Homo sapiens: one gene and its partners. The protein of the gene in region 3 interacts with the protein of the main gene of each other region in a pairwise test. Each region holds a gene or a part of one and is shown on either strand. Other genes may lie near its edges.

The links.
Region 1: the proteins of KCNJ6 (region 3) and GABBR1 come close enough for resonance energy transfer, tested with the Homo sapiens proteins (one study listed by BioGRID).
Region 2: the proteins of KCNJ6 (region 3) and PTPRD interact in a two-hybrid assay, tested with the Homo sapiens proteins (one large-scale study listed by BioGRID and IntAct).
Region 4: the proteins of KCNJ6 (region 3) and PNLIPRP1 interact in binary tests that used the Homo sapiens proteins (3 or more experiments, as listed by UniProt).
Region 5: the proteins of KCNJ6 (region 3) and CXXC5 interact in a two-hybrid assay, tested with the Homo sapiens proteins (one large-scale study listed by BioGRID and IntAct).
Region 6: the proteins of KCNJ6 (region 3) and SYT3 interact in binary tests that used the Homo sapiens proteins (3 or more experiments, as listed by UniProt).
Region 7: the proteins of KCNJ6 (region 3) and CMAS interact in a two-hybrid assay, tested with the Homo sapiens proteins (one large-scale study listed by BioGRID and IntAct).

Annotation. Positions count from the first base shown.
Region 1 is NC_000006.12:29,626,684-29,630,183, reverse strand, and holds part of GABBR1 (gamma-aminobutyric acid type B receptor subunit 1 isoform a precursor), read left to right. Parts: intron 1-1,076; coding exon 1,077-1,097; intron 1,098-2,170; exon of another isoform or gene 2,171-2,392; coding exon of another isoform or gene 2,393-2,537; coding exon 2,538-2,698; intron 2,699-3,500.
Region 2 is NC_000009.12:8,482,003-8,485,502, reverse strand, and holds part of PTPRD (receptor-type tyrosine-protein phosphatase delta isoform 1 precursor), read left to right. Parts: intron 1-175; coding exon of another isoform or gene 176-178; coding exon 179-276; intron 277-1,124; coding exon 1,125-1,384; intron 1,385-3,500.
Region 3 is NC_000021.9:37,906,458-37,909,957, reverse strand, and holds part of KCNJ6 (G protein-activated inward rectifier potassium channel 2), read left to right. Parts: intron 1-3,500. UniProt on the Homo sapiens protein: Inward rectifier potassium channels are characterized by a greater tendency to allow potassium to flow into the cell rather than out of it.
Region 4 is NC_000010.11:116,604,459-116,607,958, forward strand, and holds part of PNLIPRP1 (inactive pancreatic lipase-related protein 1 precursor), read left to right. Parts: intron 1-683; exon of another isoform or gene 684-927; coding exon 928-1,095; exon of another isoform or gene 1,096-2,445; intron 2,446-3,500. UniProt on the Homo sapiens protein: May function as inhibitor of dietary triglyceride digestion. Lacks detectable lipase activity towards triglycerides, diglycerides, phosphatidylcholine, galactolipids or cholesterol esters (in vitro).
Region 5 is NC_000005.10:139,654,849-139,658,348, reverse strand, and holds part of CXXC5 (CXXC-type zinc finger protein 5), read right to left. Parts: intron 1-3,500. UniProt on the Homo sapiens protein: May indirectly participate in activation of the NF-kappa-B and MAPK pathways. Acts as a mediator of BMP4-mediated modulation of canonical Wnt signaling activity in neural stem cells.
Region 6 is NC_000019.10:50,629,882-50,633,381, reverse strand, and holds part of SYT3 (synaptotagmin-3), read left to right. Parts: intron 1-570; coding exon 571-1,096; intron 1,097-3,210; coding exon 3,211-3,500. UniProt on the Homo sapiens protein: Ca(2+) sensor involved in Ca(2+)-dependent exocytosis of secretory vesicles through Ca(2+) and phospholipid binding to the C2 domain.
Region 7 is NC_000012.12:22,063,218-22,066,168, forward strand, and holds the end of CMAS (N-acylneuraminate cytidylyltransferase), read left to right. Parts: intron 1-555; exon of another isoform or gene 556-710; intron 711-1,903; coding exon 1,904-2,094; 3' UTR 2,095-2,451; downstream 2,452-2,951. UniProt on the Homo sapiens protein: Catalyzes the activation of N-acetylneuraminic acid (NeuNAc) to cytidine 5'-monophosphate N-acetylneuraminic acid (CMP-NeuNAc), a substrate required for the addition of sialic acid.

The DNA of each region.
Region 1 (3,500 bases), on a different chromosome or scaffold from region 3:
TTATGAATCTCACCTCTCTCACCTTCTTCAGGTTTAAATACTCCAATTTTCCCTTTCTCTAAACTTAGAAATTTCCATGCATCACCCTCTTCTAGAATTCATCCCTCACCATTCCTTATATAATTGATTTATTGTAAAGACTCAGAAATAAATCAAACATTCTACTAAGAAAAATTGAGAAGGGGAGCTCTGGGGGTGGAAACATATTAGGGTAAAAGACTTAAAATTGGAGGCAGCATTATCAGAAGATGAAGAACAACTCAGGGATGGGGTGGGAAGAAGACAGGTCCTTTTCTGTACTTCCTAGACAACCTCCATTATTCCCTAAGGGAATCAGTGTTGTGTCTGTCTACTTTTTTTTTTTTTTTTTTGCCACGTAATTTTACAAACTCTCCCTTTTCTAGGCACCCGAACTCTCTGCCATCTTCTCTCCTGGGATGCAGTCATCCCATTTGTATGCCTCATACTTCCTCTACCCTGGTAGATTCTTTCAAGATCCTTGGGCTTTACTTTCCTCACATAACTCAGTTATTCTGCTTCTAGTTTACCATTTTATTCTGGAAATTGAGAGTCCCATCCAGGGGTGGACTTATGACACTACTGAAACTTAGACTTCAAGGTTCCTCACCTACAGGGCCCTCTTCCTGTGCTCTAATAATATAGAGGGCTCGATGGATATGTGTTCATATGGTAACAGGCTTTTGTAAAAATTGCAGAAATAAGATTTTAACAGCAATTGCTTAAAGCCAATTGTATGTGTAATTTTTTTTCTTAAAGACTCCCAATTTTGTAATATTCAGGCACCACAGAACCAAGATCTGCCCCAAACTTAGCTATTGGCATTCCCGTCTCAAATTCTGTTGTCCTATGAAAAATCGAAGAAGAAAATAAGTCCTGACCCCCTTACCCCCAGACCCACCTTGTTCTTATCCCCAGGCACCCTCCCCTCAGAAACGCAGGCTTCTGCTCTCCCCGGTCTTCAGCATGGACAGGTGTGGGAGGGGGCTGGGGATCAGGCCAGGGAAGCTGGGCGCCAGTGGTAACTCTTCTCTGATCCCCGTCTTTCCTGCTGCCAGTGAATCGAACGCCACACTCAGGTGAGATGAGAAACCCTTACCGCGCGCACTGCAATGCCCTCCCCTTCACTCTGCACCCTCCACCCCCCTGAAATTCTGCCCTTAGGCTACGGGGCGTCGTCCTTTCGCACCTTCCCCAACCCACCCCAGTTTGCGGCCACCCCCTTCCCTCCCTACCTGTTTCCTGCCTCCAGTCCCGGTTTTCCACGAGGCTGCGGTCTCTCCTTGTCCCTGCTTGGCTACACTTCCCTGGGCTCCACCTCCTCCCAGACTGAGCCTCGCCGGTGTCAGGCAGAGCCCAGCAGAGGGCGGCAGGGTGCTGGGAGACCCTGAGCTCCCACCACGTTTTCCCCTGTGGGGTTCCTTGCGACCTTCGCTGGAACCTTTTCCAGCCTGCTGCCTCCTAGGATTTCACCTAATGGACTTTCTCAGCCTGTCCCACCCATCCCAACCCTGGCCAGGCCTCTCGCGCTCTTCCCCACATCTTTTCCTTCCGTGTACCCCTTCCCTCGTCTTTTCTCAATTCCATGTCCTGTCTCCCTTTCTTAGGCTTCTGTCTACCCAGCCCCAGGCTCCCTTCCACGACCCCACCACTCCCTCAAACCAGCCTCCCTTCCGTACCCAACTCGTTCCCTCCAAAACCGTTTCCTCTCCCCCACATCCTCAGTGCTTCACTGTATCGACTCATACTCCCACTTCAGACCTCAGGCGCCAGCCCCGTTTCTCTCCCGTCCCACTCGCATCCTTCCCTTCCTACCCTGGTTCCTCCGTGCTTCAGCCTCCCGCGGCTCCCTCCGCCCACCCCGCCCTCCTGGCACGCCCCGTCCCCATTTCTCCTCCCCTCGGGTCCCCTTAAGTGAGATCCCTCCCTTCCTCTTTCGTTCCTTTCCTCCTCGAGGTTGCATCCCCCCTCCCCTCCCCGCCCCTCCGACTGTCGCTCCCACCTCGGCGCTCGCTTCCCTCCCCGCCCCCTTCCTGCCTCCCCAGCTCCCGCCCGCCCCCCCACCCCCCGCTGCCGCGCGCCGCCCGTGACGTCAGAGCCCCCTCCCAGCCCCACATCTCCCTCCTGCTCCTCCTCCTCCCCTCCGTCGGTCAGTCAGTCCGCGAGGAGAGTCCGCGGTGGCGGCGACGGTGGCGAGAGCCGCGGGGGCCGTAGGAAGCCAACCTTCCCTGCTTCTCCGGGGCCCTCGCCCCCTCCTCCCCACAAAATCAGGGATGGAGGCGCCTCCCCGGCACCCTCTTAGCAGCCCTCCCCAGGAAAAGTGTCCCCCCTGAGCTCCTAACGCTCCCCAACAGCTACCCCTGCCCCCCACGCCATGGGGCCCGGGGCCCCTTTTGCCCGGGTGGGGTGGCCACTGCCGCTTCTGGTTGTGATGGCGGCAGGGGTGGCTCCGGTGTGGGCCTCCCACTCCCCCCATCTCCCGCGGCCTCACTCGCGGGTCCCCCCGCACCCCTCCTCAGAACGGCGCGCAGTGTACATCGGGGCACTGTTTCCCATGAGCGGGGGCTGGCCAGGGGGCCAGGCCTGCCAGCCCGCGGTGGAGATGGCGCTGGAGGACGTGAATAGCCGCAGGGACATCCTGCCGGACTATGAGCTCAAGCTCATCCACCACGACAGCAAGGTAGCCCTGGACATGGGGGTGGGTGGGAGGTGGGGGCTTGCGGGGCAGGGGGCCAGCCAGCTGCACGCGCCCCCATCTGTCTGAGTCGTCTCTGGGATTGCGAGGCAGACCCCTCCCTTGTGTGACTGGCAGGAGATGGGCTGGGGGTGCAGGAGCTTGGGGAGAGTCGCAGGGGCTGGAGGTCCAAGATGAGGGTCTAGGGGCTCAAGATGGTTAAGCATGCTGCAAGGCAGACCCTTCTGCCCCGCTGCGGGAGTCTCGCAGAAGTGTCGGGGTTTGGAGAAACTGGTGGTGGATTTAAGGTATTAGGAGACACTGATCCTCTGAGGGAGTAAACTAACCCTGGAATGGGTTGGGGGTGGAGGGAATGTCAGAGGTGGGGAGCTGGATTGGGGGTTTACATTTACCATGGTAACAAGGTAAAATCTTGGCGTAGGTTGGAGCTGGAAGGAATAGGGACAGAATGAGGAAAATTTTGAGAGACTTGAGAGCTCTAGTTTATTTATCTTAACAAAACAGCAAGGTAGTGGTGAGCCCTACCTGACTCCTTCTCATCCTTCTATTCCCAACCCTGTTGAGCATTCCCAGACTGTGGGATAGATGGCATATGGTGATTGGGGAAGGCTAATGATCAAGAGGTGGGCAGAGGCACTGGGAAAATGAATTGGATTGGGGATCCACATGGGAACCCCCACAATAGCATGGGGATGAAGAAGAGTCAACATACAAGGAGAAGAGAACAGAAAAGAATGGCAGTGGGGGAGAGGGGCAAGGAGGTAGCGTGGGGATAATGAGAGATCTT
Region 2 (3,500 bases), on a different chromosome or scaffold from region 3:
AAAGATCTCTGTGAGAATGGGGTATTAAAATGAATGCTCTAAACAGGTAGGAAAATCATACTTCTCTCTCTGATCAAAGTAGACAGCATCTAGCATAAGCCCCTATGGTCCATGGTGGAAAGGACAGGTCATCTGTTTTAAGAATAGTTTAAATACACTGTTTTTCCTTTTCCAGCAGTGTTTGCAAAAAATTTTCATGTCAAAGCAGTAATGAAGACTTCCGTGTTGCTGTCTTGGGAGATTCCAGAGAATTATAACTCCGCCATGCCTTTCAAAGTAAGTTGTTTTCTAATTTGTAAGAAATCACAGATAAAAGTAGAGGGGACAGTTTATCTGGGTAAGTTATTTGCACAGCAAGCAGACCACTTTGTTTTGGCCACGTGTCCTTGCTATTTTCATTTGTGACTTTCACATGGGAGACAGTTTGGTGCTTTGTAAGTGTGTCCTTTACACTCTGAAGAAGGAGCAGGAGCTTAAATCCAGGGCTGGCATCACTTGTAGGTTACCTACTACTTTGAACTTGAACTTTTTACATCTAAGCTAGTGCTTTTGTTTTTCAGCCAGAGAATGAAATTTACATGGTTTCTACCTATTTATATTATAATACCCTGGGAGTTTCTGAATTTGTTTGTTGGCCTGTATTCTTGGCACATTTTAAACTCTGGCTTGCCATTAAGAGATGTTAGCAAGTACATATTTATGAAATAAGAAATAGAGAAACATTTTTGAAAGTAAAAGTATATTTAGAAAGAGGAACCAAAACCTTTAGAAAATAGGCAATATTCATAATACGTTGAAACGTAGAGCTTTTCTGCACATATTCCATTAAGATCACATACAACTGACAGGTCTAATATTGATAAGTTATTTTCTATATATATATATGTATATATCTATCTTTGTGTATTTTTGATAGACTTGGAAACATTTTATCATTACACAGTAGGAAATGACAGGAAAATTGATGTGATCTCCAGAATTATGACTACTCATGGACTTAGAAATCACCTAAAATTAGAATTGACTATATATACATTTTCCAAAAGCTAGTGCACATTGGTTTAGAAAATATATTTTGCCTCTCTGATAACCAGATTTTTTTTTTATTGGTTTTATCTCTTTAGATTCTTTATGATGATGGGAAAATGGTAGAAGAAGTGGATGGCCGAGCCACACAGAAGTTAATTGTCAACCTGAAGCCTGAGAAATCATATTCATTTGTGCTGACAAATCGTGGAAACAGTGCTGGTGGGCTGCAGCACAGGGTCACGGCAAAGACTGCACCAGATGTATTACGTACCAAGCCTGCCTTCATTGGGAAGACCAACTTGGATGGCATGATTACTGTGCAACTGCCTGAAGTACCTGCAAATGAGAATATAAAGTAAGTTGATTGAAGGCTTAGGGCTGAAGGAAAGAATTATAGGTAAATAGGAACATTATATCTCAAAATTATAGAGGTCGTAAAAGAAGATACTGCTTAATGTAGTGAAAGATTCTTCTGCTCAGACTCCCAGTTTTGCTATCCGAGTTCTTTTACAACGTGTCCTAGTATTCATTGTAACACAGATTTTCATTAATTTAACAGTGAGTTTTTAATCTGTATTGCAGGGACAGTGTTATTTAGGAGAAACAGAAAAACATATAGAACATGGTTCTTACTACAAAGCTTTTTGTTTGTTTGTTTGTTTGTTTGTTTTTGTTTTTGTTTTTGTTTTTGTTTTGAGACGGAGTCTCGCCCTGTCACCCAGGCTGGAGTGCAGTGGCGCGATCTCGGCTCACTGCAACCTCCACCTCCCGGGTTCAAGAGATTCCCTTGCCTCAGCGTCACAAGTAGCTGGGATTGCCTCAGCCTCCTGAGTAGCTGGGATTACAGGCACCTGTCGCCATGTCTGGCTAATTTTTTGTATTTTTAGTAGAGACCGGGTTTCACCGTGTTAGCCTGGATGGTCTCAATCTCCTGACCTTGTGATCCACCTACCTCAGCCTCCCAAAGTGCTAGGATTATAGGCATGAGCCACCGCGCCCGGCTACTACAAAGCATTTTATGTCATAGTTTATGGAATAAGGTGAATAGGTGATTAACTCTAATATTTGGCAAAATATTTTTGTAATTATGAAGAAGTCTTACAAAGTACTAAAAGGTTGAAAAAAAGGGGGGGAAATTAGATAATGGTATATGACACTGATGTATTAAAAGTAGGAAAAATTCCAAAAAGTTAAAGTTAAAAATGACATTGGAAAAAATATAAACATTAGAAAATTCAAGTTTTCTGGTTTGAATGTAGCACAGCATAGAGGCCAACAGGCCTGAAGTGGAAAATTAAATCCAGTCAATTAAATAAGTTTGTCCAAGGACATATAGCTAGTTGGTTGAATAACTAATAGAAGAAAAAAGTATTTTCACCAAAATATATGAACTACAAGTACTGTGGTAGACTCCGGGGAATAAAAAAAGATGGATTCCTGACTTCAAAGACCTTACCATAGAGTGAGAGAGATACAGAGAAACAGACAGATGTAGTAAGCGTTAATGATAGAATTATGCTTTATCTTAAGAGCAGCTAATTCAGAATGGGTCAATAAAGTTTCTGAACTTAAATCTTAAGGGATAAATAGGAGGCATACAAATAATAAAAGAGAGACTATATGCAAAGGGAGTGGTAAGTGCATAGGCCCATTACTAAAGGCACCCAGTGGTGCCATACGGCTGGATCCCAGAGCGCCTGGCCACAAGTGGCAAGAGAAGGAAGAAGGAGGCATACAAGAGCCAAGGGTATACCCAGAAGTGAAAACTATATCCTCTAGACAATGGCAACCCATTACAGCTCTTTACACAGGAGAGTGGCATGATAACATTTCAATAATACATAATAAAATTCCATTTTAGGAAATATTTGTTGAGCATCTATTGTGCTACCTGTTTGGAATAAGAATAAATCCTTTCTCATTTCTTCTATCTCACACCCTCAAGTTTAGGTGAAACTTGCTATGCCAGGTTTGAAGGTCAAGCAGAGAGGCATTTATTCATAGTTCATGCATTGTTGGAATTTGGATAGATGGGAGCGCCATAGAGATAGTGGTAGAGAAAATTATTGGGAGGTGGTCACATAGTTGACTCTAGGCAAATAACAAGATTCTAAAGGAAGATGATGATGATGGAAGTAGGATGCAGAGGTAGACATGAGTTACACTAGAGTAGTAGTACAGCATACATTATTGGTAGCTGCTTTAATGATGAGATCAAGAGAGTAAAATATGGCTCTGAGTTCTGAGCTTGGATGACAATGAATGATGGTGTCATCCTAAAGGATAAAAAAATTCAGAAGTAAATGAGTTTAACGTTGTGTGTATTAATATGAAATATCAGTGAAATACCTAGTTAGAAGTGTGGGCTTAGAGAAGTTATTAAGATTAAAGATGGCCAGGCATGGTGGCTCATGCCTGTAATCCCAGCACTTTGGGAGGCCGAGGCGGGCAGATCACAAGGTCAGGAGTTC
Region 3 (3,500 bases):
CACATGTCACATCAGTGTCAATGATCAATGGGAAGGAGATGTATATTTCTCCCACAGTGAAGCACTGCAAGCCGTGCAGCAACAGGTAGAGACATCTAATCTTTCAGAGAGGGAAGAGAATAATTGGAGGCAATAATATAATCCACTATGCTAACTATGTGACCTTAATCAACTTTATGCCTTGCTTTCCCTATCATAAAATAATAACAATAAGAGTAATAATAACAACATATACCTCAGAGATGTTATGAGGATTCATGTGATAATGTAAGTAAAGTTCTTAGCACAGGCCAGGAGCGGTGGCTTACACCTATAATCCCAGCACTTTAGGAGGCCGAGTCAGGTGGATCCCTTGAGGCCAGGAGATGACTTGAGACCAGCCTGGCCAAAGTGGCAAAACCCCATCTCTACTAAAAATACAAAAATCAGCCAGGTGTGGAGGCACATGCCTGTAGTCCCAGCTACTCAGGAGGCTGAGGCACAAGAATTGCTTGAACCCAGGAGGCAGATGTTGCAGTGAGCTGAGATCACACCACTGCACTCCAGCCTGGGTGAGAGGGAGACTCTGTCTCCAAAAAAAAAAAAAAAGTTCTTTGTGCAGTGTCCAGCACAAAGTAGGCACTTTAAAAATAGCAGATGTTTTTATTCATTTATTGCAATGTGGCATTAACTTCAGTTCTTGATGAGCCTGTGTATACTGTATTAATTAGAAAGTTCTTGAAACAGAAAATATCTAAATCTCACTAATTTAACAAAATAGAAGATTTCTTTCACATAAATCTAATTGGTTGATGCCGTACAAGGACCCAGGCTGAGGGACACTTTGTCATCTTTAGTACATGGCTTCTAAGATCTGCTGAGTGGTGATATCCAACTAGCAGACAAGGAAAGAGGGAGAGTAGATGATTATGTAGAAGATTTTAATGATCCGGGCCTAGAAGTAATGTATATCACTCCTATTCATATTCTATGGTCATACCTAACTGCAAGAGCAGCTGCAAATTGTAGTTCAGCTCTATATCCAGGAGGAGGGAAACTGGTAGGGTGAACACACTGGAGTCTTTGGTATGCATGCCCGATATAAATGTCTGGCAGCAAAGAAATACAGCTAATGTGAATCAGGATAGAGTAAGGCAGAGGAAATGATTTGTCCCAGTGGTGAAAAGATTCCTGGTAGAGACAATATTTCCTGGTGCCCTTGAATCATTCTTTAGTGGTGTATTTTTTTAAAATAAATTAGTTGGGATATGTTGACTTTTGGAGTAGGTGTAGATGATTCTTAACAAAAGAGATGCAAATACATATTGTTTGATTTCTGTTAGCTGATCTGTTAAAGTAGACACAAAGGAGAAAAGCCAACTTCACAACCCATGCTCAAAAGCAATGTTCTAATCTTGACAATTACACCCACATTGTGTCTAAGAATGCTGAAGAATTAGATGCTGTCTTCTAATATCTGGCACTTGCTGTTGACTAGCAATTTGCATTTTGTTTTAAATCCCCTAAATGTCCATAGGCTAGATACATGCTGTAAGTTTAGGTTGAATTAGTCTACTAATAGTCATTGTTTTCCTGAAAATAGACCATGTAATTTGTAAGCAGTGTTTGAGAACCTCTGCTTCCCTCAAGGAGAAAACTTGGAAACTAAGTTCCATACCTTTTCACTAGAAGCAAAAGAACAGCTTTAATGCCAAACTTACAACCTAGAAAAGAGAAATGTCAGGGAGAAATATCTGAGAAGACTATGAGAGGAAGAACCAGAAGAAACAGAGTGGTGATCCATAATACTTCCGGTTCTCTTACATCGTTTCCATTTCCCTAACTCAGATATCACAGCCACATACATTCATGCAGGGGAAAACATTATCAAAATGAAACAGTAAATACCAGTAATGCATGTTAATCCTTCCATGGGGCAGTAATACTGGATTAGAAAACTCTTGACCTCTTCAAATATCTTGCCATTCCAAAGTAAATAATGTCTCATAGTGGAACTTCTGTTTAATGAAGAGAATGTTTTTGAGGACAGGATTTATTTCACTGCCACATTCAATCATTTCAATTTAAAAGGGATATAATCCAACAATCTATGTGCAGAAGGGAATAGGCAGGACAGTACCTGAGTCCAAACCATGTAATATTAGAGTAGATGAAAGAATTAGGAGTGTTTTCCCTGGAGAATATGTGGGGGAGGAGGCATGATAGTTGTTTTCAGGTATCTTGATATTTGAAGATGAAGGAAGGATTATAATTGTTCTGCTGGGCTCTAAGGGATAAAAGTGGGACCCAGCAGTGGAAGCTACAAAGTGACATATTTTGGTTCAATATAAGAAAGCATTTTCAGTAGTCAGAGCGGGGCAGAGGTAATGTGATCTGTCTTCTCTGCATTTACACAGCTCTGAATTCTTTGTCACTAGAAGCATAAAGAAGCTGAGAGAGCTAGGAACTGGGGTTGGAGTGTATGTATTTCAAAGTCTCTGCAACACAGAGCACTTCTAATGGCTATGAGAGAAGCGATGCCCTTCAGGCTCAGTCAACAAATCAGACTGGACCTCACCACTCTATGGGGCCATTGCTTTATGACTGAGGGAGCCATCATTTCTCTATAAAAAAAATGAATCACATTTAACCAAAAATGATATCTCAGTCCCTACACGAACCTTGTGTCTATGAGAGCAGGTCTGGAATGCAGTAATCATATGACTAAGCAGCATCACATGACTAAGAGGAAGGGTACAGGACTCACTGCTCATGGAAAAGCTTTACCCTTGCTTTTTGTTGTCAACACACTACCTTCAGTCAAAAGACAAGGAATGAAATCTCTCTTCGGAGGTTTTTGCATCACCTTACAACATTTTCAGAGCCAAGACTCCATGACGAGTTAGGCAGAGCACACTTCAGATTTTTAGACATCTCTAACGTGCAAAATATAGTGCTACTAACATATAATTCCTCCTCTCAAGAAATCTAGTTTCAATAATGGCAACGAATGGGGTAGATTCCTTCCTCTTCAGCTGTCTCCCAAGGTCTCACCAGTCAATACCCTAAACATATTCACCCTCTTAAATTTTCATTAGCCCTCCTGGGGTGGCTGGGCCCACAGTAGTAAAGCATATAAAGAGAGGGCAGAAAGAGGACGGCAAATAAAGAACCTATGACATTATGTGTTGTCATTGGAAGAGAGGCCGCATTAGGTGGCCCTCTTTTTTAATCAGCACTCAAGGAGTGTTGGGCCCAAGCCCACACTCCACATGTCTCCTTGACTGGCCACTGTTGGGGGTCTCTGTGGACAAAAGGAGGCATCAGAGCTGATGAAAGTCAGCTGAGGTCAGTGGTTCCCATAGTGTGTCCCTGAACCAGCAGCAGCATCACCAGGGAGCTGGCTACAAATGCAAATTCTCAAGCTCACCCCCCGATCTACTGGATCAGGAACCCTGAGGACAGGGCCAATCATCTGCCCATCCCCTCCAGGGATTCTGATGCACTCTAAAGGGTGGGAG
Region 4 (3,500 bases), on a different chromosome or scaffold from region 3:
TACAGCCTAGGTATGTAGTAGGCTGTGCCATCTACGTTTGTGTGAGTACATGCTATGATGTCCACACAATGATTAAATTACCTAAGGACACATTTCTCAGAACATATCTCCATTGTTAAGCAACGCAGGACTATATAACTTTATGTACTGATGTTAATTGCAGACTTCTGCTAATAATTTTTCTTTTCTGTTATAAACCTAGGCATTTCGTCCTTTCTCTCTCTTTTTTTTTTTTTTTTTTTTTTTTGAGAAAGAGTCTTTGCTCTGTCACCCAGGCTGGAGTGCAGTGGCACGATCTTGGCTCATTGCAACCTCCGCCTCCCGGGTTCAAGAAATTCTCGTGCCTCAGCCTCCCAAGTAGCTGAGATTACAGGCATGTGCCACCACACCTGGCTGATTTTTGTATTTTTAGTAGAGATGGGGGGCGTTTTGCCATGTTGGCCAGGCTGGTCTCGAACTTCTGACCTCAAGTGATCCACCCATCTCGGCCTCTCAAAGTGCTGGGATTACAGACGTGAGCCACCATGCCCGGCCTCTTTCTCTTAATAGATGTTTTTTTAAACATAAATCTAATATTACTTCAGATATGCTGTTTTCTGATTAGTGCAATAACACATGCTTATTGTGCCATACTATGTGGCCAATTTGTTACTGTACAAATAATTCTTCCAAAACATATAAAATGATATGCAGGAATTCTATTTTATTTTCTATTAGAAAGCTTTAAGGAAAAATTAACTTGAGTTTTAAAAACCATAGTTTGAGGTGCTAGCATATAGCTGGCTTTTCCATTTCTCCATCCTTTATTTGGAAATTAATTCGGAAAAATAATCCTGTTAATCTAGAAGAGAAAACAGCAGCCTGGCATTGTATGGTAATTAGAACTCATTTCCGTGAACAGGGATGTTTATGTTTCTCTATTTCAAGGGGGATTCTCAAACCAGGCTCAACCCATTCCTATGAGTTTGATGCAAAGCTGGATGTTGGAACAATTGAGAAAGTCAAGTTTCTTTGGAATAACAATGTGATAAATCCAACCCTCCCCAAAGTGGGTGCCACCAAGATCACTGTGCAAAAGGGAGAAGAGAAGACAGTGTATGTATCTTTGCTGGCTGGTGCCTAAAAATGTTTGCAGAGATTCATGTTATAATGAAAACCCACCCTAGAAAGTTACGTGTAGTTAAGCAAGAAAAGCCAAGAAAATTTACCCATCTGTGGCCCCTTCTCCCCAAACAAGCAACTGACAAACAGCATAAAATGTTTCTGTTGGGTGCACCTTATTGGGTGTTCTCAGCACTGCCTGTGGGAATACAGAAGATAAGGCTGCACTTTCAAGGTAAAATGAGAAAATACAAGAAAGAGAACAAGAAATCCTTTCTGAAGGGTACAAGTTTATAAGTATGGGCTAGTGAATAGCTATACTTGAAAGAGGAGAAGACCAATTACATTTCAGGATAATAAAACGGAAAATAAATCGGTTTTAGGAAAAGATCGAAAATTTTACATAGGACAAGAATGCACTAGGATTGCAATACTTGTGAGATCCTGACCTGTGGTCTCCCTGGCTTTGGGCCTGAATAAGCACAGGGCCGTGGGTAGGAAAAAGGGACGGCTGGAGGAAAGTTGGAGTGGTGACCTGAGAGGGCAGAGCGACTGTCTCTCAAACCTCAGACCCCAAGTCTGGCTAGTAGAACATGTGGCTTTGTGGGAAGGAGATCCTGGGCTCTCAGCCACCGATGTTCTTGAAGTTTGGGGTTAGGTGGAGTCACCGAGTTCAGGTCCCAGAGATTGTCACTCCCCCAGGTGGGGAGGGTGGGGTGGCAGAGTAGAATGGGGGCTGACTCCACATCTGGGTCTCCTCGAACTGGATGACTTAGTGAGGTTCTCCTTATCCCCACGAGGCAAGGAGAACAAAGAGGTTGGCCCTGCCAGGTGGTGGGTGGAACCAGGAGGCCTCATAAGCTAGAGCATAGTACAGAGGAGGCTGGGCCGGGCTGGTCGGGAGCCCTGTGCAAGCTGGAGGTGCAACCAAATCCTTTCCTCCCTGACCCCATCAGAGGATACTCAGCCTCTAAATTCAGCTCCCCAAGGCCCCATTAGCAAGCATCCCATGGCCTGGATCCTGGGACTGTGTGGTTAAAAACATGTCAGGTGGTGGCATCATTGGAATCTTAAAAATTAGAGGTGTTCCCAGGAGATGACTTGCTCACAGGTAAGGCATACAAGTCCAAATCAGCCAGGGCATTGCATCTTCCAGGTTTTCTGAGGAAAGGCTGAGGCTTTCTGAACTTTCTGCAAATGGAACAGAACATACTTAAGGCTGCACCTGAGGTCCTGTGCCCATCAGCTGTCACCTGCATTCCAGTGGCTGAGTGCAGCTCCCCTCGCTGTCTGCTCCAGAAAGACTCTTTCTTAAGAGCAGCTGGATATAAGACATCAGGTTTTCTAAACAGAGGAAAGTCAAAACAGCTTCAAATCTCTCAAACTAGTTTGGGAAGTAAAAACACTGAATTAGTTGAATTACTCAAACATTTTCCTGTTATGAAAATGGCCAGTAACATTTAATAATAATAATAATAATAATAATAATGAAGAAGCTAAAGAAAATCAAGATTTTGGTCCAAGCTCTTCTCAGAATCCCCTCATATTTTTTAGTAACCTCATTGGGGTTTCAATTCCTACTAAGGAATCTGCCGACTAGGATTCCCTCCAATGACACAGTATCCAAAGAGAAAGGCAGCCCTCCCCCTCTTTATTTCTCCGTCCCCCTCTCTTTATTAAGTACCTTTGGTAAATGTACCCTTGCAAATGACTTTATTCAGTACCTATTGTATGGCCTGGCAAACAGTAAGGGATGCAAACACTGAGCCTACACTCAAGGAGCTTACAGTTCAGCTGTTGAGAAAAATCAGACTTATGGTTCACAGGGAAGGTCAAAAGACCAAATAAAGAACTCCCAGGAGAGGCTCAGAAAGACAGTGGCCAAGGAGGAAAGCAGAGGGCCGCGGGGAGGCTGTGATGGAAGGAAGGGCAGCTCTCAGGATGAGGCAGGGAGTAGGAGGGAGGAAGGGCACAGGGGCAGGGCAACAGGTCCAAGTGCATGAGGGGCGACAGGGCCCAAGTGCAGGGAATATGATCGGAGGCCTCCGATGCCAAGTTAGGGCTTCTTGGCAGAAAAAATGAAACACAGAAGAGAAAGTGGGAAGGGGCCAAGGAACACCAGTGAGGAAATGGGGCAAAGCTTCCGAGCTCACAGGTGGTGAGGCCTGAGAGAAGTCCGTGGTTCTTGAACAACCACAAAAATAACTGCTTACATCTGCATTGTTTTTTGTTAATTGTAAGACTTTTTACATTTACCATCATGGGATGTTACGTTCTTATCATGGAATTCTCAACAGTCGTGGGAGAATGACTGAGATGGAATCTCGCTCTGTTGCCCAGGCTAGAGTACAGTGGCATGATCTCAGCTCCACTGCAACCTCCACCTCCTGGGTTCAAGA
Region 5 (3,500 bases), on a different chromosome or scaffold from region 3:
TTCTAGCAGCAAAATCCATGGTTCTGTGATTCCAGAATCCCAACGAGAATCCTGACTTGAAAAATGCCTCCATTCCAAGCATTCTATCTATGATTCTAGACTCCCATGACTAAGAAATTCTAGGCCACCAAGATCTGACCGCCCCAGGAAGAAAGGGGGCCAGGTCCACTTCTGCCTACTGCTATGAGCCCAGTTAACTAATTTCCCATCTAGTTCTGGGGGAGGTGGGTCAGGCAGGAGAGGGGCTGGGTCTCTCCCATCAGAGTCAACAGGAACTGGCATGAAGCTGTCGGGAGCCCCTGGCCTGGAGAGAAGCTGGTCTAGTCCTAGGGGACAGGCCACCTCCTCCTGGCACACACAGCCACTAATGCCACAGATGTCAGGAAGTCAGCCCGCACCAGAGTGAGAGTGGGTGGTGGGGGGTTTGCATGCCTGCACCCCATCCTGCGGCTAGGAGGGAGGGAGGGCGGGCGTCAGGTCAGGGCTGGTCTCTGCTTCTCAGGTTCCAAGCCAAGCTCCACGCTTTATCTTCCTGTCTTCACCACCCACTGCTTCCTCCTTCCCGCCACAGTCCCCTCACCTCCCAGGCCAGTCCCAGCCCAGGCCAGCCGGCAGCCAGCCAGGACAAAGGCTCCCAAGCCCATCTGACAGATGGAAAAATTGTGGTCCTCAAAGAAGATAGGACCCGCCCCACTGGCTTGGCTTAGCAGCCTATTGCTCTCTGGCCACATCTCTCCGCCTTGCCCCTACCTTGCTTCCCAGAATCCTCCACAGGGCCAGTAGGTCTCCACCTGCCAGCCTGTTCACCAGCAACCCCCTACCCCAGTGTCCCCTGACAGTACTTATCCTCACCACCAGTCATCCAGTCATTCATTCATTCACTTTTGTCTGCCCAACTAGCCTATCAGCCCATCTCCCAACACATCCAGCCCATTGCCAAGGGTTATGGGGGCCTCAAAGAGGAAAGAGCAAGGCCTGTGCCCAGCAAGCATTTAAGGAGTCCCTTCTGTGTGCCAGATAGTGTGGAAGGTGCAGGAAACAGCACACAGAGGCCAACAGCCTGTCAAGGGCTCTGCCAGGACTCCATCCCACTAGGCAGTGGCAAGCCACAAACTCCCAAGGCCTCAGTTTCCTTATCTGTATATGGGGATGCTAACAACATGCATCTGTCCCAGGTATGGGCCCATGTCACCTGAGGCTACTGTGGGGATGAAAAAAAGTGAAAGTCAGAAAGCTGTTAACATGGTGCCTGCCACAGAGAGGACTTTCGTTGGGCTACCCATTACCACTGGCTTTGTTACAATCTATTACAACAATAGCAGTTGGCCGGGGGTGGTGGCTCACGCCTGTAATCCCAGCACTTCGGGAGGCCGAGGCAGGTGAATCACTTGAGGTCAGGAGTTCGAGACCAGCCTGGCCAACATGGAGAAACCCCATGTCTACTAAAAATACAAAAATTAGCCAGGCATGGTGGCGCACACCTGTAATCCCAGCTACTCGGGAGGCTGAGGCAGGAGAACTGCTTGAACCCAGGAGGTGGGGGTTGCAGTGAGTCAAGATGGCGCCATTGCACTCCAGCCTGGGTGACAGAGTGAGACTCCATCTCAAAAAAACAAAAACAAAAACAAAAACAAAATAGCAGTTAACGGGGGCCGCAACTGATTACAGCAGCAGCTAAAGTTCTTCAAACACTTATTTGGTGCCAGGCACTGGGGGTACAAGAAGTAATCACTGCCATATCCCATTGCAAGGCTGGCAAGGAGCAGGCCCAATAAGCAGCCCCAATAAGCATCTGATGAATGAGGGGATCAATGACAGGAGGCACGGCCCTGCCTGCAAGGAAGGTATAAGCCAGCATGTTTTCATGGGTGAGGGTGTCTTTCTGCACACATGTGTGTGTATGTAAGCACTTAGGTGTGTTACACGTACATATGTGTGCCTGTGTGAGAGACCTGGGGATCCAGTGATGCCAGGAGCACAGCCACTCAAGCCCACTGAGGCCCCCACCTGACACCACCCCTGCCAGTGATCACAGCAGAGCCAAGGGGACTGTGGCAAGAGCAGGGGCCAGGCCCACAGAGAAAGGCCTGGAAAGATGCTTTGCATAGTTCTGGCCATCGGATTACAGGCCCAGCCTAGGCCCCTACTTGGGTGTGTAGGGGCCGCTAGGGGTTGCCCCACAGGAACCCAGGCCCCCAGTGCCCGAACATTACGCCCGTACTGGCATGGCACACAAGTGTTCCTGCTGGCAGGCTGGGCACGTCTGAGGAGGTCAGAAAAGGTCACAGGCAAGGGAGGGAGTGCTGGGCCCAAGGGCGATGTAGGGTCTGCCAGACAGAGGAGGGCGGGTACAGGGCTCCCCGGGGGCCACCAGGCAGGCCTGGCTCTGCCCTGCTGGGGCCGGCAGCTGGAGGGGAGTAAATATAGCTGGGGCGTCCCAGCCACATTCCTGGGAGGCCAGTGAGGCCCGCCTGCCCGCTGCTCTAAGCAGAGCGCAGCAGCCAGGGCCCAGAGCCGCCACTGCCCTCTTCCCAAACAAACAGAAAAATAAATAAAACCAGCTCTCACGGCCGGCCGGCACAGCTGGTGGGGGAGGGGGCAGGAAGGGGTGGACAGTGGTTGGGGGGTGGACAGGCAGGCGGACCAGTTGCCGCGGTTTCTGTTCCACTGGGAAGGAGGAGGCCAACAAAAGAGGGAAATGGAGGAAAAGGGCAGGGAGATGGTCAGAGATGTCAGCGAAGGGGAGAGAATCCCGAAGAGATGAAGGGTGTCACAAGGAGAGGTGTGGGGAGGTAGGTCAGGAGGGATAGGGAAAGTGTCAGGGGCAGGCACAGTGGGGGACAGTTAGGAGAAGGCAGAGGCAGCCTCTGGGTCAGTAATTCAGCGGCAGGGATGCCCAGGGGGGCGGCGGGGGGTGGCAGGCAGAGACAAAGGGGGCTGTGTGGGCTGGGGTAGGGGGCCGGCTTGAAGGGCCATGAAATATTGAAGAGCTAGGCCAGTGAGTGACAAAGGTCATAGGAAGCAGGAGACTAGCCAGGGAGCAATGGGGAACCCTGAGGCGGAGGGCTGCCCCACCTCTGGCCTGTCTCTCCACCACCTCCATCACAGCCAGTCTCCCCAGCTCTCCTCCTGCGATGGAGGGACAGGCTGAGGGTGGGATGGGCCTCGGGGATTAGTGATGGCAGGGAGACCTCTGCAGTTCCCTCTTCCCTAGGGCTGATCTGGGTACAGCCGGCCTTCCAGAGCTGCCAGCCACCCTATCAAGAAAGCCAGGAGGCCTGTCAACACAGCCGCTGCCACGGCACCTCCTGGGGAAGGAGCGGGAGACATCCAGCTTCTCCTTCCCAGGAAAAATCAGCCAAGCCACCACTTTCCACAGAGACCTGTGGGGAGGGACGGCTGGGCCTCACAGCTCAGCTGAGCCAGCAGGTCACCCCCCAGCCCTCCCACGCTACCCCAGCCTGGCCCCATTACTAGCTTCACCACCTGGGTCAGTCCCC
Region 6 (3,500 bases), on a different chromosome or scaffold from region 3:
TCTCAGAACTGTCATTTATTACTTGTAAAACCTTAAACAAATCACTGAATCTCTCTGTGTCTCAGTTTCCTCATCTTTAAAATGGTCATATAGAACTACTGGGCTGGGCACAGTGGCCACATCTGTAATCACAGCACTTTGGGAGGCCAAGGTGGGAAGATTGCTTGAGGCCAGGAGTTCGAGCCAGCCTGGGCAACATAGCAAGACCTCATCTCTACAGAAAAATTTAAAAGTTAGCCAGGTGTGATAGCACATACCTGTAGTTCCAGCTTCTTGGGAGGCTGAGGTAAGAGGATTGCTTGAGCCCAAGAGTTCGAGGGTGCAGTGAGCTGTGATTATGCCACTGCACTCCAGCCTGAGTAACAGAGATTCCATCTCTTTAAAAAAATACAATACTTAACCTTGTAGAGTTGTAGAACATAAATTAAGTAATACATGTAAAGTGCCTGGCACTTGCAATTGCATGGACAATTGCATGGCAAATATGAAGGGTTAACTCTTTGGGGACAGCAGAGGGAGGATGTACTGTGACCCCATCCTGACCCCTACCTCTGTCCTCGTTCTCTCCAGACATCTCCGTGAGCCTGCTGTCGGTCATCGTGACATTCTGTGGCATTGTCCTTCTGGGTGTCTCTCTCTTCGTGTCCTGGAAGTTGTGCTGGGTGCCCTGGCGGGACAAGGGAGGCTCGGCAGTGGGCGGTGGCCCCCTGCGCAAAGACCTAGGCCCTGGTGTCGGGCTGGCAGGCCTGGTAGGCGGAGGCGGGCACCACCTGGCGGCTGGCCTGGGTGGCCATCCTCTGCTGGGCGGCCCACACCACCATGCCCATGCCGCCCACCATCCACCCTTTGCTGAGCTGCTGGAGCCAGGCAGCCTGGGGGGTTCTGACACCCCTGAGCCCTCCTACTTGGACATGGACTCGTATCCAGAGGCTGCAGCAGCAGCAGTGGCCGCTGGGGTCAAACCGAGCCAAACATCCCCTGAGCTGCCCTCTGAGGGGGGAGCAGGCTCTGGGTTGCTCCTGCTGCCCCCCAGTGGTGGGGGCTTGCCCAGTGCCCAGTCACATCAGCAGGTCACAAGCCTGGCACCCACTACCAGGTGAGAGAGGATACTGGGTTGGGGGTCCACTCTGAACTTCTGCTCCTCCTCTGTGTCTCTTTCCTATCTATAGCTCTTATGAGTTCGGGATTTGGAGGGGAATCGGGGTATTGACTCCTGGATCTTAGGGAAAGAGGAGGCTGGGGCCCTAGACTCCTGGATCTGAGGGAGGTTGGGGCTGTGGGGTCTAGACCCCTTGGACCAGAAGAAGTAGGGGACTGGGGGCCTGAATTCCTGGGTCCAGAGGGAGGAGACTGGGGGCAGGACTTAGGACAGGAAAGTAGAGGAGAATAAGGTTGGATCCCCAAGTCCCCTGTGGCACAAGGCAGTTCACCCCCTTTCACCCTAAGCCAGGATTGGTAGTGGGACCTGGAGTTCCTTCATTCATTATTTCTCAATATACATGTAAATGTATATTGAGCACTGATATAAACTAGGCCTGAGAGGGGTGTTAGGAAAACACCAGACTCTGCCCTCCTGTCACTCACAGCGCAGGGGAGGCGACCCCCAGACTGGCTGTCCTGGTGTAGCCAGGTTGGTGAGACAGGAAAGCGACTCAGGGAACCGCAACTGGGAGAAGGCTGGGAGCTTCCTGGAGGTGGAGATGTCTCAGCTGAGACCTGCAGGCTGAGGGAGAGTTGGGAAGGCAAAGAGGCAGGGCTGTGACCTGGGCATTCCAGGTGAAAGGAGAGGCCCAGGCAAAGACAAGAGGAGAACGAGATCCTAGTGCATTGTGAGGACAGCCCACACCAAGGGGACAGCCAGGGCACCAAGCCTTAGTCACCAAGGCATGAGAATAAGTTTGAAAAACGGAAAACTTCAGGCTGGGCGCAGTGGCTCATGCCTGTAATCCCAGCACTTTGGGAGGCCGAAGTGGGCAGATCACTTGAGGTCAGGAGTTCGAGACCAGCCTGGCCAATATGGTGAAACCCCATCTCTACTAAAAATACAAAAACAAACAAACAAAAATAGCCGGGCATGGTTGTGTGTGTCTGTAATCCCAGCTACTCGGGAGGCTGAGACGGGAGAATCTCTTGAACCTGGGAGCCAAGATTGCACCACTGTACTCCAGCCTGGGCAGCAGAGTGAGACTCCATCTCAAAAAAAAAAAAAAAAAAGAAAGAAAGAAAAAAGAAAAAGAAAACTTCAGAGATGTGACTACAGACACCAGACCACATGGGGCTTTGAGTGCCCGCCTGAGGGTCTGGGACTTTGTCCTGAGGGCACTGAGGAGCCATGGGAGGGCTGTGAGCAGGGGAGGGGCAGGCTCAGCTCTGGGTGTAGAAGGAACCCTCTGGGGCCATATGGGAGTGGGCTGGAGGGAGACACTGGAGGCTGAGAGTCCAGGAGAGGACAAGGCCTGAGCTGTGACCAGGACAGTGGGGATAGAGAGGAGAGACAGCCGGGGAGATTAAGAGAAGGGCAGAAGAGCGTTCAAAGAAGGTCTGCCAGGGGTCCATGGAGAAGCATCCTGGGTCACCAGCTTGAGGTCCAAAAGAGGTTACTGGAAGCTGGTTTATGCACAGGTCTGGGCTGGAGCTAGCTTTGAAATGGGGAGAATGAGGCTGGGTGTGGTGGCTCACACCTGTAATCCCAGCACTTTGGGAGGCCGAGGCGGGCAGATCATCTGAGGTCAGGAGTTTAAGACCAGCCTGACCAACATGGTGAAACCCCATCTCTGCTAAAAATATAAAAATTAGCCGGATATGGTGGTGCATGCCTGTAATCCCAGTTACTCGGGAGGCTGAGGCAGGATAATCACTTGAACCTGGGAGGCAGAGTTTGCAGTGGGCCGAGATCGCGCCTTTGCACTCCAGCCTGGGTGACAAGAGCAAAACTTCGTCTCAAAAGAAAAGGAAAGAAGGAAGGAAGGAAAGAAGGGAGGGAGGGAGGGAGGGAGGGAGAGAAGGAATGCCCCCCAGATACCAATGGGGAATCTGAGGCTCAGAGAGCACAGTGGCTTCCTCAAGCTCACACAGTGAGCAAAGGAGGGGACTTGTGGCCACCTGGCTGGGGGATGGGGGGAAAGGCAGGGAGGAGTCTCCCAGGTCTCTGCATGCAGTCGAAGATCAGAGCCACTGACCTCACCTTGGTCTCCCCCCAACCCCCTACAGGTACCCAGCCCTGCCCCGACCCCTCACCCAGCAGACTCTGACCTCCCAGCCGGACCCCAGCAGTGAGGAGCGGCCACCTGCCCTGCCCTTACCCCTGCCTGGAGGCGAGGAAAAAGCCAAACTCATTGGGCAGATTAAGCCAGAGCTGTACCAGGGGACTGGCCCTGGTGGCCGGCGGAGCGGTGGGGGCCCAGGCTCTGGAGAGGCAGGCACAGGGGCACCCTGTGGCCGTATCAGCTTCGCCCTGCGGTACCTCTATGGCTCGGACCAGCTGGTGGTGAGGATCCTGC
Region 7 (2,951 bases), on a different chromosome or scaffold from region 3:
CAGTATTTACAAGGGTAATATGAGCCTCAAAATAAGAAGCACAGGAAAAACTTTGGGAGCATGTGATCTAGAGACTTCAGGAATAACCCTTAAACCACACATGAAGATTTAATGGACATAAATGCTGCAGAATGTTTGTTAAAGACAGATCCAATTTTTATTAGAAGAAAATTTTAGTGGAATGTATAACAAATTCCAACTATACTTATTATCTTTCTTTGGGATGTTAAGCAAGCTTCTGTATACCTTAGTTTTCTACTTAGAATATAAACACAAACCAAATTTTATAAAGCCATTAGAAAGAAAAACAAAGATAATATAAAATGCTTAACATAGTGCCTACAGATAGTAATAAGTGTATCATTTATATAGGTAAAACTCTAGAATTATATGTGTCAAAATGTAGTGATTATCTACAAATAGTGATAATTAGGATGATTGTGACTTTTTTGCTTCTATTTTTTAAAAAAATATTTCTACCACGAATACGTATTACTTATATGACATTAAAAAAAAAACACACACACACACACTTTAAAAGGAGAGGTAAGAAAATGGAGAAGAGCATTTACATTTTTATTTAAAACTCACAGCAGGCCAGGCATGATGGCTCATGCCTACAATCCCACCACTTTGGGAAGCGGAGGCAGGCAGATCCCTGGAGCTCAGGAGTTTTAGACCAGCCTGTGAAACATAGTGAGGCCCCATGTCTACAAAAAAAAAAAATAATAACTCACTCACCAATGTTTTATATGGGTGACATAAGTGTATAAAAATATATTTCTTAAAAAAATCAATACTTTTATAAGTAAAATTTAGTAAATAGAGCTTAAAGGCTGGATTATGCAAATACTAACTTTTTTTATTTTAGTGAAAACGATTCAAATTTCAACACATTTAATAATAAATGAGAAAATTTCAGTAGATAAGCATAGAACAAATGTAAAAGAAACTCTCTTCAACCAAGATTGTACTATTGTATGTGGTCTAAAGTATAGTAATAGTTTTACTCAGAATGGTGAATTAAAGATACTGGGAGCTTCTGAAATGCATCCTATTCCAAAAAAGGGGTTAACAGAGAGGGAGGAAAAGGATATCGTTATGTCAGTATGATTTAGTATCTATTTTTATTCTTTAAAAATGGTAATTTTTCAGCAACTATTAATAAATGGCATACCAATCAGAACCATTACAGATTAAAAGAGATTTAAGAGATTATATATATATAAACAAAAGACCATATGTTAACCTTATTTCATTCCTGATTCAAATAAGTCAGCTATAAAAGGACAATTTTGAGACAGCTGGGGGTATCTCAACATATACTAGGTTATTAGAGGATATTAAGGAACTATTACTGATTTTGTGGGTTTAATGATATTCTGTCAGATAAAAAATTATATTTATCAGAGATAAATATTGAAGAGTTTTTGGATAAAATATTATGTCTGGGAATTCCTTCTTCTCCCTTTCCCCAAATAAACTAGGGGGCAGTGCATAGAAAACAATATTACTAAGTGATTTTAAATTCTGATAATTTTTCAATATAAAATTGGGGTTCTCGCATATGTTTGAAATTTTGCTTAATGAAAAATTTAAATAACTTACTTAGAATTCATATATAAAATTTCTAACATTTGTAATATGCATGGCAGGTAGCAATTATGCTCCATTCTTCTTCTCTAGCTCATAAGAGTTTATTTTTGATTGCTTAGGGAAAACCCTGGACCTCAATTATACTGTAAAATATTTTTGTTCCATCTAATCTTTAGTATTCTTATATGCAGTGCCCCTAGGTCTTACTGAAGTTGCCAGAGTTACCTGTTGGTTGCTGTCTGCATTATTTAGCTAGAATATTCTTTGTCTCTTTAAATGTTTGCTCAGTATTTATTTTACTTGATAGGAAATGAAGTGTCTGATGAAGAGTGCTTGAAGAGAGTGGGCCTAAGTGGCGCTCCTGCTGATGCCTGTTCTACTGCCCAGAAGGCTGTTGGATACATTTGCAAATGTAATGGTGGCCGTGGTGCCATCCGAGAATTTGCAGAGCACATTTGCCTACTAATGGAAAAGGTTAATAATTCATGCCAAAAATAGAAATTAGCGTAATATTGAGAAAAAAATGATACAGCCTTCTTCAGCCAGTTTGCTTTTATTTTTGATTAAGTAAATTCCATGTTGTAATGTTACAGAGAGTGTGATTTGGTTTGTGATATATATATATTGTGCTCTACTTTTCTCTTTACGCAAGATAATTATTTAGAGACTGATTACAGTCTTTCTCAGATTTTTAGTAAATGCAAGTAAGAACATCATCAAAGTTCACTTTGTATTGTACCCTGTAAAACTGTGTGTTTGTGTGCTTTCAAAGATGTTGGGATTTTATTTATCTGGGGACAGTGTGTATGGTAAGACATGCCCTTCTATTAATAAAACTACATTTCTCAAACTTGATGAAAACTGCCTTGTTGCTCTAGAAGAAATTTACCATGCATTTTCTTTCTTTCCTTTAAACATTAACCAATCTTAGTGAGAAACAAGCCACTCGATGCCGGGGTAGAGCATCTGATTGTACTTCACATATGTATACGTAACAGCATATGGTCTATGTGGGGGTTGGTTCCAGGACCACCCACATATACCAAAATCTGTGCATACTCAAGTACCACAGTCAACACTGTTGAACCCACATATACAAAAAGTGGGCCCTCCATATACTGCATGATTCACATGTATTTTTGATCTGCACATGGTTAAAAAAATTCACATAAAAGTGGACCACACAATTCAAACCCATGTTGTTCAAGGATCAGCAGTATACACAAATACAAATATCCAAATAAATTTATATATTATGAAGATTATGTATTTATTTGGAGGAAGCAAATTATTTGCAGTTACCCCTGAGAGATAATGGTAATTTTGCATACAGGAATATCTTAGAGATATTACGG